Regions from separate parts of the Homo sapiens genome. Here region 1 is linked to region 2. A link means that fine-mapping ties the variant in region 2 to the expression of a gene that starts in the linked region. Tissue or cell type: whole blood. Region 2 holds a variant in brackets; the other region holds the start of a gene. All regions are shown on one strand. Distances are from middle to middle.

Region 1 (5,141 bases), 81 kb before region 2:
GCTTGCTGTGTGACCTGGGGTGAGTCACTCCCCCTCCAAGTATCATGGGGACAACATCTGCCTAATAAGGGTGCCGTAAGGATCAAACAAAACCAGGGATGTAAACATCTACAAAAGTGACACATGTACAAAGGTGGTTGCTGCTTTTCTTTTTTTTTTTTTTTTTTTGAGACAGAGTCTTGCTCTGTCGTCCAGGCTGGAGTGCAGTGGCGCGATGTCGGCTCACTGCAACCTCCACCTCCCGGGTTCAAGCAATTCTCCCACCTCAGCCTCCCAAGTTGCTGGGATTACCAGAGAAGAGACTGAAGGGCAAGGAGGGAAAGGAATTGGTTCCCAGGTCCATGGACCTCTTGTGAAGCCCCCATTGCTGTGGGGTCTGAGGAAACACAGAGGAGGTGTCAGCTGCTCTGCCTGCCCCCACTCCCCTGCCAACAACGTAGTAACCTCTGTGCCTAACCTCTGAGCCCTGGCCTCCAACCCTGGGAGGGAGGTACTTATGTTATCCGCATTGTGCACGTGGAGCTCAGAGGGGCAGCCACTTGCCAGGCCAGCAATCCAGGCTGTCTGTCTCCAGAGCCCAGGCCCCCAGTCAACAACTTGCCAGGTGCCCCTCTCCAGGCCTCGGCTTCTCCACCTGTGGGTCAAGAGCACCAGGCTTGTTCTAGAGCTATCTTCTCAGACCTGATGTGGGAAATACCCTGGTGTTGTTAACATGCAGATGCTGCTCCCAAGGGCAGGGGTAGGGCTGAACAGTCTGTGTTTCCCACAGGCTCCCAGGTGGTGCCCCTGCTGCTGCTACTTGATCCAGCAACCACACTGGGGTTATGGGGCTGCTGGCCATACCAGGATTGCCATTACGTATCAAAGCTTAGGAAATAACTGAAGCACTGACTTTTTTTTTTTTTTTTTTTTGAGACAGAGTCTCGCTTTGTCACCTAGGCTGGAGTGCAATGGTGCGATCTTGGGTCACTGCAACCTCCGCCTCCTGGATTCAAGCGATTCTCCCGCCTCAGCCTCCTGAGTAGCTGGGATTACAGGTGTGCACCACCACACCCGGCTAATTTTTGTATTTTTAGTAGAAATGGGGTTTCACCATGTTGGCCAAGCTGGTCTCAAACTCCTGACCTCAGATGATCCACCCACTTCAGCCTCCCAAAGTGCTACGATTACAGGCATGAGCCACTGCGCCTGGCCCGCACTGACTTTTAGTTAATAGGATGCACACTTCCTATGTGCAGACATGGTGCTCAGTGCTTTACACGTGGTGACACACTTAACAATGGCATCGCCTTCTAAGGGAGAGAGGACAATTACTGTCCCCTTATACAGAGGAGAGGAGAGGCAGAGAAGGGGTCAGTCCTCAGCCTTCTCTACTTAGTTCTCTTAGACTGATGCTCCCAAGCACTGACAAAGAAGTGGGAGGGGTTGGTCAGCTCACGATAGGGGCCTAAGGGTGGTGAGAAGGGGTGGTGAGAAGGGGTGGAGCCCAGGGGTGATTCTCAGAGGAGGAATTCCTGCGGTGCAGAGCACCCTGGGCAACCCCAGGCCTCCCAGGAACAGGGAAACTGGGACAGACTGTTTCTTCCACCTGGGAGGAGTCTCCCAGACTCACAACATTCCAGGGGCCTCTGCCTCCCTCCCTCCCACCCAGTTGAGGGACAGGATGCTGGCTAGGCTCAGGTCATGGTCACGCAATGCAGGACCCGCTGAGAACGACTGGGTAAGGCCTTCTCTCTCCTCTCTGGGACTCAGCTTTCCCTGCTCTCTCATCTGTGCAACAGGATTGACCAAACCCCACCCACAGCTACCGGATAGGAAACCCTGGGGAGAGGGGCCCTCAGTGCTTCCCACACCGACGGGTTGTTGAGCTTACAAACCCTAGGGCCTAAGGGTGGTGAGAAGGGGTGGAGCCCAGGGGTGACAAGGTGGGGAAGGCTCCATAGGGCAGAGGCCAAGTAAGTTACTTTGCTCTCCCCTGTTGTCCTTCGGCCTTGGGGCTGGCAGGCGTGTGGTCCCTGTCCTAAGCCGGAGACCCCAGTAAGATGGGGAGGCCTGGGCCCAATCTGACCTGCACCTTGCCCTCCCTGCTTGCCTTCCACCTGCTGAGCTGGTCCGTTCCTCAGGGCCTTTGGGCTGGCTCTCCCCCAGCTCTCTCCTGACACCTCCTCTGAGAAGCCTTCCCTTCTCAGCTGTCTCCAGCGCCCGAGCCGCGTCTGGGTATTTACTACTCTCTATCCCGGGAGTGCTCAGGACTCGGTCCCCTAGAACAAGGCCTGGCACGACACGAGCCCTCAACAGGTTGTTATGACGGGAACAACTGAATCTCCAGCACCGCCAAGCCCCGCTGGGGACTGGACGACCCTGCGGCCCCTCCTCACTGCAGAGAAGAGGGCAAAGCCAGCCCCCACCTGCATTCCCCGAGTCCAGAGGGAGCGGAGGCTTCGACATGGCCCCCTCACGGGGCAGCAAAGCCCCGAACCGGCGGCAGGCTTGGCTCAGGAGCACCTCGGCCGCTGCGGGCAGCCACCGTGGGGCTGGAGCCCGTGCCGCCACCCCGCGCCGGACCGGGTCGCCGAGGTCCGGATCTCCACCCGCACTGCCTCCAGCCGGGGCCGAGCCCGACGCCGCTACGTGCGGCTCCCTCCCGGGCCTCGCGTGCCCCCGCGCCCCGAGCGACTCCCGACTGCCCGGCACCCCTCCCGTGGGTTCCCACATCCAGGGCCTTCCCTCCCAAACGCCGCCTTGGCCGTCCGAGCTGCGCCCGAGCGGAAATGGGCCGCTCGCGGAGCAAGGAGGGGAACGGCGGCTGGGCTTCCCGCCGGGGCGAGGGACGGGGCTCCCCCTCTAGCTGCGGCAGGAGACGGGGAGAAGGCCCCTCCTTACCTGACAGCCCGGGCCGCGCTCAGGACCGGCCGCCCCGGCCGCCCCGGCCGCCCATCCGCCGCCACTGGGTGTGCGCGGATCCAGCACAGGCCGCGGGACTCCGGCCTCCAGCGCCAGACCAGGCGGCCTGGGCCGGGAAGCGTCGCGCAAGGACCGGGCGCGACCGGCTCCGTGGAATGAGGGCTAGGCAGGAAAGGCGAGGCGGGGTCAGCTCGCCGGGCCGCGGGTCTCGCGGACACCCTGCAGCCCTTCCCGACAGCGGCGACCGGGAAAGCAAGACCGTCTTTTTCGTCCAGCCCAAATTGCGAAAACGGCCACAGTCCCACAAGTCCCAGAGTCCCAGAGTCCCTGTTATCACTCAGGCCCGCCCTCTAACCTCCAGCAGCCTATAGGAATAAGTCATCACTGGGGGAAAAAAAAAAAAAAGTGGGAGAGACCAATCAAATTCCCAAGAGGCGGAGCAGCCCGCTGACCTCTTAAAGAGACAGCACAGAGGAGGTGCAGAGACAAGACGCTGCTTCACGGAAGAGAGAGGCCTGCGTTTCTCACTCGGAAAGCGGGCGGAATCGAAGACTGGAAAGCTGAGGACGCGCCACCTCTCGCCCTACGCGCCTTCCAGCTGGCAGCAGTTGTCAGTGGACCAGCTGGCGGCAGCCGCGCTCCACCTCCCGGCCTGGGCCGCGGCCGGACCGTCGGGGCGGAGCCTCCGGGGACCGCCCCCTCGCGTGCGGGCGCTTCGGGCGCCCTGCAGGGGTGACCTGGGGTCAGCTTGGGGGAAGGCGTGTCGGGGACCCTCCCCGGCGCCACGCGCTCCAGCCGCGCCACGCCGCAGGGCCGCCGCCTCCCAGCGCCCTGCTCCACGCGGCGCCGCCATGCCTCGGGCACTCCTCTTAGCAACCCTGCTAGGCAGTCATTATAGTCACCTTTTACAGGGCCACCTGAGGCTTGGAGAGGTCAAATAACTTGACCAAAGCCGCGCAATGAGGAAGCGACACAGCCAGGACGCCTCTCCCCAACTCTAACTTCCACAGTTCTTCACGCCTGTTCCTCTGGAAAGCCCTCCCTGATTGCGCCTGTCTTATCCCCTGGCATCGATGCTGCATTCACCATACTCAAGCCATGCGGGTCTCTGTTTCTGTCCCTCGGCTGTTCCAAGCTTGTTCCTGCTCCTGGCTCTACACCTGTTCCCCCGCAGAGCTGGCTCCTTGCCACATCATGTCCTCTAGAGGGTTTTGTGGACACCCTCGCTGGAGCGGCTGTCCAGTCTCATTTCCTTCCGAGCATCTTAATTCTCACCTGATTGTTTTCATTTACCTGCCTCCCCGTCCAGTCTCCCCACCCTATTATAGAATTCCAGCGTCATGAGGATGGAGCCAAGAGAGCCAAGCTGCAGGATGTCCCCTGCAGCATCCTGAGGCTGACTCAGAGCCTCGTGCAGATTGTAGGCACTCAGTTATTACAGGCACCCCAAGACTCACACCTTGCGACAGCACCGCTGGGCTGGAATGAGATTGGGTCCCATTCTTCTCCTTGCTCCTGTCCTAAAAACACAGGGAGATTGGGGAAGAAACCACCTTGTGATCCTCTGGGACTTTCCCAGCCTGGACCACACCCAAATGTGCATACCTAAGTTTAGGCTTCTATATTCGCCAGAGAGGCTGGGCAATGCCGGCCTGCGTAATCACGAATGACCACAGCCACAATGAGCCGTGGGGAATCCAGTGGCTCCTCAAGTTCCTCCCAGAAAGTTATACACATCACTCTCACGCACATTCAATTGGCCACCGCTTCTAGCCTCCAGAGGGCAGGAAACTGCCACCCTACCATGTGCCAGGAAGTAGAAGTCATGGGACATGTGTGACCAGGCCTAATAACTACCCTCTGTAAGGTTCTTGTATCGGTTCGAACCCTGCGAGCGCGCCGACACACAACACGAGGCGGTGTGGAGCAACATGCTGTTTTTTTTTTTTTTTTTTTTTTTTTTTTTGAGACGGAGTCTCGCTCTGTCGCCCAGGTCGGACTGCGGACTGCAGTGGCGCAATCTCGGCTCACTGCAAGCTCCGCTTCCCGGGTTCACGCCATTCTCCTGCCTCAGCCTCCCGAGTAGCTGGGACTACAGGCGCCCGCCACCGCGCCCGGCTAATTTTTTGTATTTTTAGTAGAGACGGGGTTTCACCTTGTTAGCCAGGATGGTCTCGATCTCCTGACCTCATGATCCACCCGCCTCGGCCTCCCAAAGTGCTGGGATTACAGGCGTG
Region 2 (5,141 bases):
GCTGCCTCTCTTGGAACAGCCAGAGGGTTGAGGGTGAGTACGGGGCTGGGCCTAGAGGCAGAGGGCTCAGTAGAGCCCCTTTCCTTCACTGAACACGGGGGGCTCTTTCTGCCCTTGTAGGAGGTGTTCCGGCAGCACCGGGGGCCACAGCTCCTGGCCCTGGTGGAAGAGGTGCTGCCCCGCCATGGCAGTGGCCACCATGGGGCCTGGCACATCTCTCTGAGCAAGCCCAGCGAGAAGGAGCAGCACCTTCTCATGACACTGGTGGGCGAGCAGGGTGAGCGAGGGCAGGTGATGGGAGGGCCCAGGAGGGCAGTGGGAGGCGGGCGGCCCCTGAGGGTCACGGGAAAAAAGTGCACGCATAAGGGCTTTGAAACTTGGAACTCCAGGACAGTAGTTTGAGCTACTTAGCTTAGTGGTCAAGGTGTACCCACCAGCTTGGGTTCTGGGGACAAGGAGGAGGGTGTGAGAATTAAGGATGGGGAACAGGAGGCAGGGGAACAGGTGTGGTCCAGCACAGGTGGGAGATGAATGGACACTGTACCTGGTGTGGCAGGGGAGAAGGGGTGTGTTCAGAAGGCAGTGTGTGGGCTTCGCAAGTGGCTGGCTGGTGTTATACAAATCGATGTTCTAACAGATCGATGCAGTGGAAAGCATGTCTAAGAGAGGGGGAGGCATGTGCCTTGAGGATCTGTGTGCAATTTGAGCCAGGAAGGGAGACAGAGGCTCAGGCCAGCTGTTGGAGAGCGGGGCCAGAGCCCTTGGAGGGGCACGCACCTCAGCCATGGTCACACTGATAGTGGTGTTTCTTACCCCCCAGGGGTGGTGCCCACTCAAGATGTCCTTTCCATGCTGGGTGACATCCGCAGGAGCCTGGAGGAGGTAAGAGTGCAGGGACCTGGACCTGTTAGCTTCTAATATGCTCCCTCCTGTCTCTGTTCCTCAAAGTCCCAGGAGTCTGCCCACATCGTGAGGTTCAAAGGAGTATAAGACAGAGCGTGCTCTGGGCAGGTTCCTTGCTTCAGGCCTCCCTTAGACATGGTTTTGTGGGAAAGACGGTGCATGTGCATGCTACCAACCAAAGGTCCAATGCAGGCAATGGCCAGGGGCAGAAAGGGGCCATGGGGGTGTGGGGGCTGTGCTAAGAGGCTGACAGTCAGGAGAGGGCCCAGAGAGGAAGGGTCTGGGGAGCAGTGAGGGTTAACTGGGAGTTTTCTGGGTAGACAGTGGCAGAGACACCATGCTGCCTGGTGGGAGGGGCGAGCATGATGGGTTCCAGAAACCAAAAGAGCAAGCCTGGGAGACCTGGACATGTGACTTGGCGTGGACGTGTGAATCTACTGGTGCTTGCACGGCCAGGCCCTGCGCTCCTGCTGCGGTGAGATGCGGCGCCTGGGGGCCAGGAGGCAGCCCTGCCATCTTAGGAGGTGCCCCCACCCAGTGCAGTCTGCTGGCTGCCTGGCCCATCCCGATCAACCTCTCCTACCCAGCTGCCGCACAAGCTTGGATGGGATGGCAGGGTCCCCCAGTCCTGCTCCTCACACCACCTTGCCTATGGGGTCCTTCTGTTCCTCATCTCACTTCTTGAGGACAGCCACCATCTCCACCAAAACTGCCTTTGCTCACTGTAGAGTCCAGTGCCCTGTCATCAGCCCTCTCCACTCCCGAAGGTGCTGCCATTTTTGGCAGGAGAGATGAGTGGTATAATGCTGGCCGCCTCTTCATCCTTGCATGCCAGGGGAGCAGAGGCCCTGGTGGTGGTGCTTTTCTGGTGAGCATGTCGAATGCCCACTGAGCACCACACTGTGCAAGGCTCTCTCCCTCAGTCCTCGCCACCACCCCATGGGGTTGTGAGGGTTAAGTGAGGCACCTGTTGAGTACCAATGGTGTCCCCATGGAAGATGAGAGCTGAAGCGGGAGAGGTTAGGTGACCTGTCTGAGATGGCACCAGCAGTAAGCGGTAGAGCCAGGCTTTGCAGGAAGCCTGATTCCGGAGCCCGGGCCTTTCACCACACTGCTCTACTGCCTGGAGGGCCACTGAGGCCCTTCCCAGTTCTGGAATCGTGGGTCCATGAACAGTGGGGCTGCTGGTGGAAGTGTGGGCTAACCTTGACCTTTTATACAGTCCTCCCCCTGCTTTTCGCTGCCCCTGAGTATTCTGGCGTTACTGGTCACTTAATTCACACTGACTTGGCCAAAAGTCATGCTGGGTCTTTGGAAATATACTCAGGTGAATCTAGCAAGAAAAACTGACCCTTGATAACAAAAAATTGAGAAAAGTACTGGAGATACACGGGTGGTTCACAGAAACCGGGGAAGAGCTGCAACCTGAACTCAGAAAGGGGGCCTGGTGCAACCTAGGCCTCAGCACTGGGAACTGCCCTGATCCCTCACCTGAGGAGCCCCTGGTGGTGCTCGCCCTCCTGCTTCTCTCTGCTAAGATGCTGATCTGTGGAGATAGCACCTGCCTGGCCCCTGGCGCCGATCTCCTTGGCCAGAGAAGGCAGGACTGACCATGACAACCTGCAGCGTGGAGGGATGCAGGCAGCTACATGCCAGCAGTGAACACGCCATGGGAAGGGAGGAAGCTGGGCAGCCGGGGTGGCCCCCCATGTGGCCTGCATGCCCTCAGTATCCCTCCCTGCACCGGCCCTGGCATCAGGAAGCTGACTGGTCCACCCCTCCCCACCGAGGTGGAAGCGGTTGTATGGTGGAGGATGTGTGGGGGGCTCACATCTC[C/T]TGTCTCTCTAACTAGTTAGGATAGGTGTGGGCACTCTCTCTAGTTGGATGGTGTCCAGCAGCATGGGTCCACTCTCACTGGAGGCCTAGGGCCACAGTGAGCTCAGACTCAGCGGCTGGGGCAGAAGCTATGGTGGGATGTGAAGGAGGCTGGGAACATGGGCATGGGGTGGAGAGGCCTCCAGGTGTACTGAGGCAAACGGGATGGGCATGGGGTAGAGGCAAGCCCAGGCGCCAGGGAACTTCAGGAGCCGGGAGTGCCAGCACCTTCTAAGCCTGCTCCCCCATCCCCACCCGAGCCCAATGCAACCACCCCAGAGGAGCCATGGCACCCCAGGACCTCAGCTGAGGAAACTGGCCCCTCCCACCCCTAGATTGGCATCCAGAACTATTCCACAACCAGCAGCTGCCAGGCGCGGGCCAGCCAGGTGCGCAGCGACTACGGCACGCTCTTCGTGGTGCTGGTGGTCATTGGGGCCATCTGCATCATCATCATTGCGCTTGGCCTGCTCTACAACTGCTGGCAGCGCCGGCTGCCCAAGCTCAAGCACGTGGTGAGTGTGGGGACAGGTGGGGCTGGGGGCCAGTTGAGAGGAGAGTGCCCATCGATAGGTGTCCTCATCTGCAAGGGGAGGCAGTGACTCTCCTGGGCGCACAGGGTCCCGTGGGTGAAGCAGCTGGTCAGCCTAGCACTGCTGACTGCTCTGCAGGGCACCAGCCCCAGGACAGGTGCCAGAGGTGCAGGGAGTGAGGGGGCTGCTAGCCCCACCAGGGGGCCCCTCCCTGGCACCACCAGCCCCTTTCCGGCGCAGGCACTGCAGGGCCTGAGCACCTGAATACCTCACCAGAGGCAGGCCCTGCGTTGGTGGTGCCCAAGGATCAAGGAGAGGCTCCAGCAGCCTAGAGGCCTCCCCAGGAGGAAGCGAGCAGAGCCCTAGCGATGCTCCCTGCCCACCTCGCAAGTGGAGTCTTCTTAGGGGGCTGTTGGGGGATCGATGACGTCAGGGAGGCCACGGGGCTTTGTAGTGCCAACGACTAGTAGGTTTATTTTGAGAAAGGAGTTGAGCTGCAGCAACAGAAAAGAAGGATCTGGCACCTGTGGAGGGTGCCGCGGGAACCCCCTGGGTGGGGTTGCACAGACGGCCGCGGGCCTGGCGCTGTCCGGGGGCTGGCTCGCTCGCCCATGGCCTCTCCCCACCCCGCCTCAGTCGCACGGCGAGGAGCTGCGCTTCGTGGAGAACGGCTGCCACGACAACCCCACGCTGGACGTGGCCAGCGACAGCCAGTCGGAGATGCAGGAGAAGCACCCCAGCCTGAACGGCGGCGGGGCCCTCAACGGCCCGGGGAGCTGGGGGGCGCTCATGGGGGGCAAGCGGGACCCCGAGGACTCGGACGTGTTCGAGGAGGACACGCACCTGTGAGCGCAGCCGAGGCGCAGGCCGAGTGGGCCGCCAGGACCAAGCGAGGTGGACCCCGAAACGGACGGCCCGGAGCCCGCACCAGCCCCGCGCCTACCCGGGCCGCCCCCGCGGCCTGGCCCTCGGCGCGGGCTCCTTCCCGCTTCCCCCGACTTCACACGGCGGCTTCGGACCAACTCCCTCACTCCCGCCCGAGGGGCAGGCCTCAAAGCCCGCCTTGGCCCCGCTTTCCCGCCCCTGAACCCCGGCCCCGCGGGCGGCGGGCGGCGCTTCCTGCGCCCCGGGACTCAATTAAACCCGCCCGGAGACCACGCCGGGCCCAGCGCGTCTGCCTTCTTGACTCATTCTTATTTCCGGGGTTGGGGCGGGGCGGGGCGGGCGGGGCACCCCGGGGCAGGGGCGGGGCCGCGGGGCGGGGAGGCCGGGGCGGGCGGGTCCTCCGGACGCCGCTGCAGAGCGGGGCGGGGCGGGGCTGAGCGTGTTTACATCCGCCGGGTGCGCGGCTTCGCCGCCCGAGGTCGTTCGGCTCGGGTACCATCCTCCGCGCCATGGACACCAGCGACCTGTTCGCCAGCTGCAGGAAGGGGGATGTGGGCCGAGTGCGGTGAGGACCTCGCAGTCCCGGGGAGGGTGCGGGAGGTGGCCGCCCTCGGAACGCCTCGGGCCCTGGGACGGGCGGCTGGGCGGCCGCGGAGAGGCGGGCGCCTCTGCCGGGTCACAGCCCTCGGAGCGCCCCCGCGGGGCAGACCACCCGGACCCCCGCCGCAGCCCCCCAGCGGAAGCGCGCTGGGGCGGGGACACTGATGGCCATTGACCCCCGGAGGGCTTCCTGTAAGAAGGGACTGCTCAGCGGAGGCCCGAAGGCGCAGAAGTGGGCGGAGAGAAGGCGGGCCACTGTTCGCCCTGGTAGGGCCCGGACGTCAGACCCCCCGGGCGCAGGGCGCGGGTATAGGCCTGGGACTCCAGACGTGGCCCCTTTCTCTC

The links. PIP is the estimated chance that this variant, and not a neighbour inherited with it, causes the effect.
Region 1: TPRA1 starts here. The variant in region 2 is fine-mapped to the expression of TPRA1 in whole blood (TOPMed, PIP above 0.99).

What each region holds. Positions count from the first base shown.
Region 1 is chr3:127,587,527-127,592,667 of GRCh38, forward strand. TPRA1 (transmembrane protein adipocyte associated 1) reads right to left here and starts at 3,207. Exons shown (of 11, transcript NM_001136053.4): 1 at 2,884-3,207. RefSeq lists enhancers at 1,472-2,149, 2,150-2,826 and silencers at 2,560-3,029, 3,530-3,859.
Region 2 is chr3:127,668,321-127,673,461 of GRCh38, forward strand. It overlaps PODXL2 (podocalyxin like 2), which reads left to right. Exons shown (of 8, transcript NM_015720.4): 5 at 121-277; 6 at 821-882; 7 at 3,114-3,293; 8 at 3,948-4,482. The coding sequence ends at 4,160. ABTB1 (ankyrin repeat and BTB domain containing 1) reads left to right here and starts at 4,632. Exons shown (of 12, transcript NM_172027.3): 1 at 4,632-4,761. The coding sequence starts at 4,706. RefSeq lists silencers at 3,914-3,993, 4,004-4,603, 4,744-5,003. The variant C/T (reference allele first, on the strand shown) is at 2,740.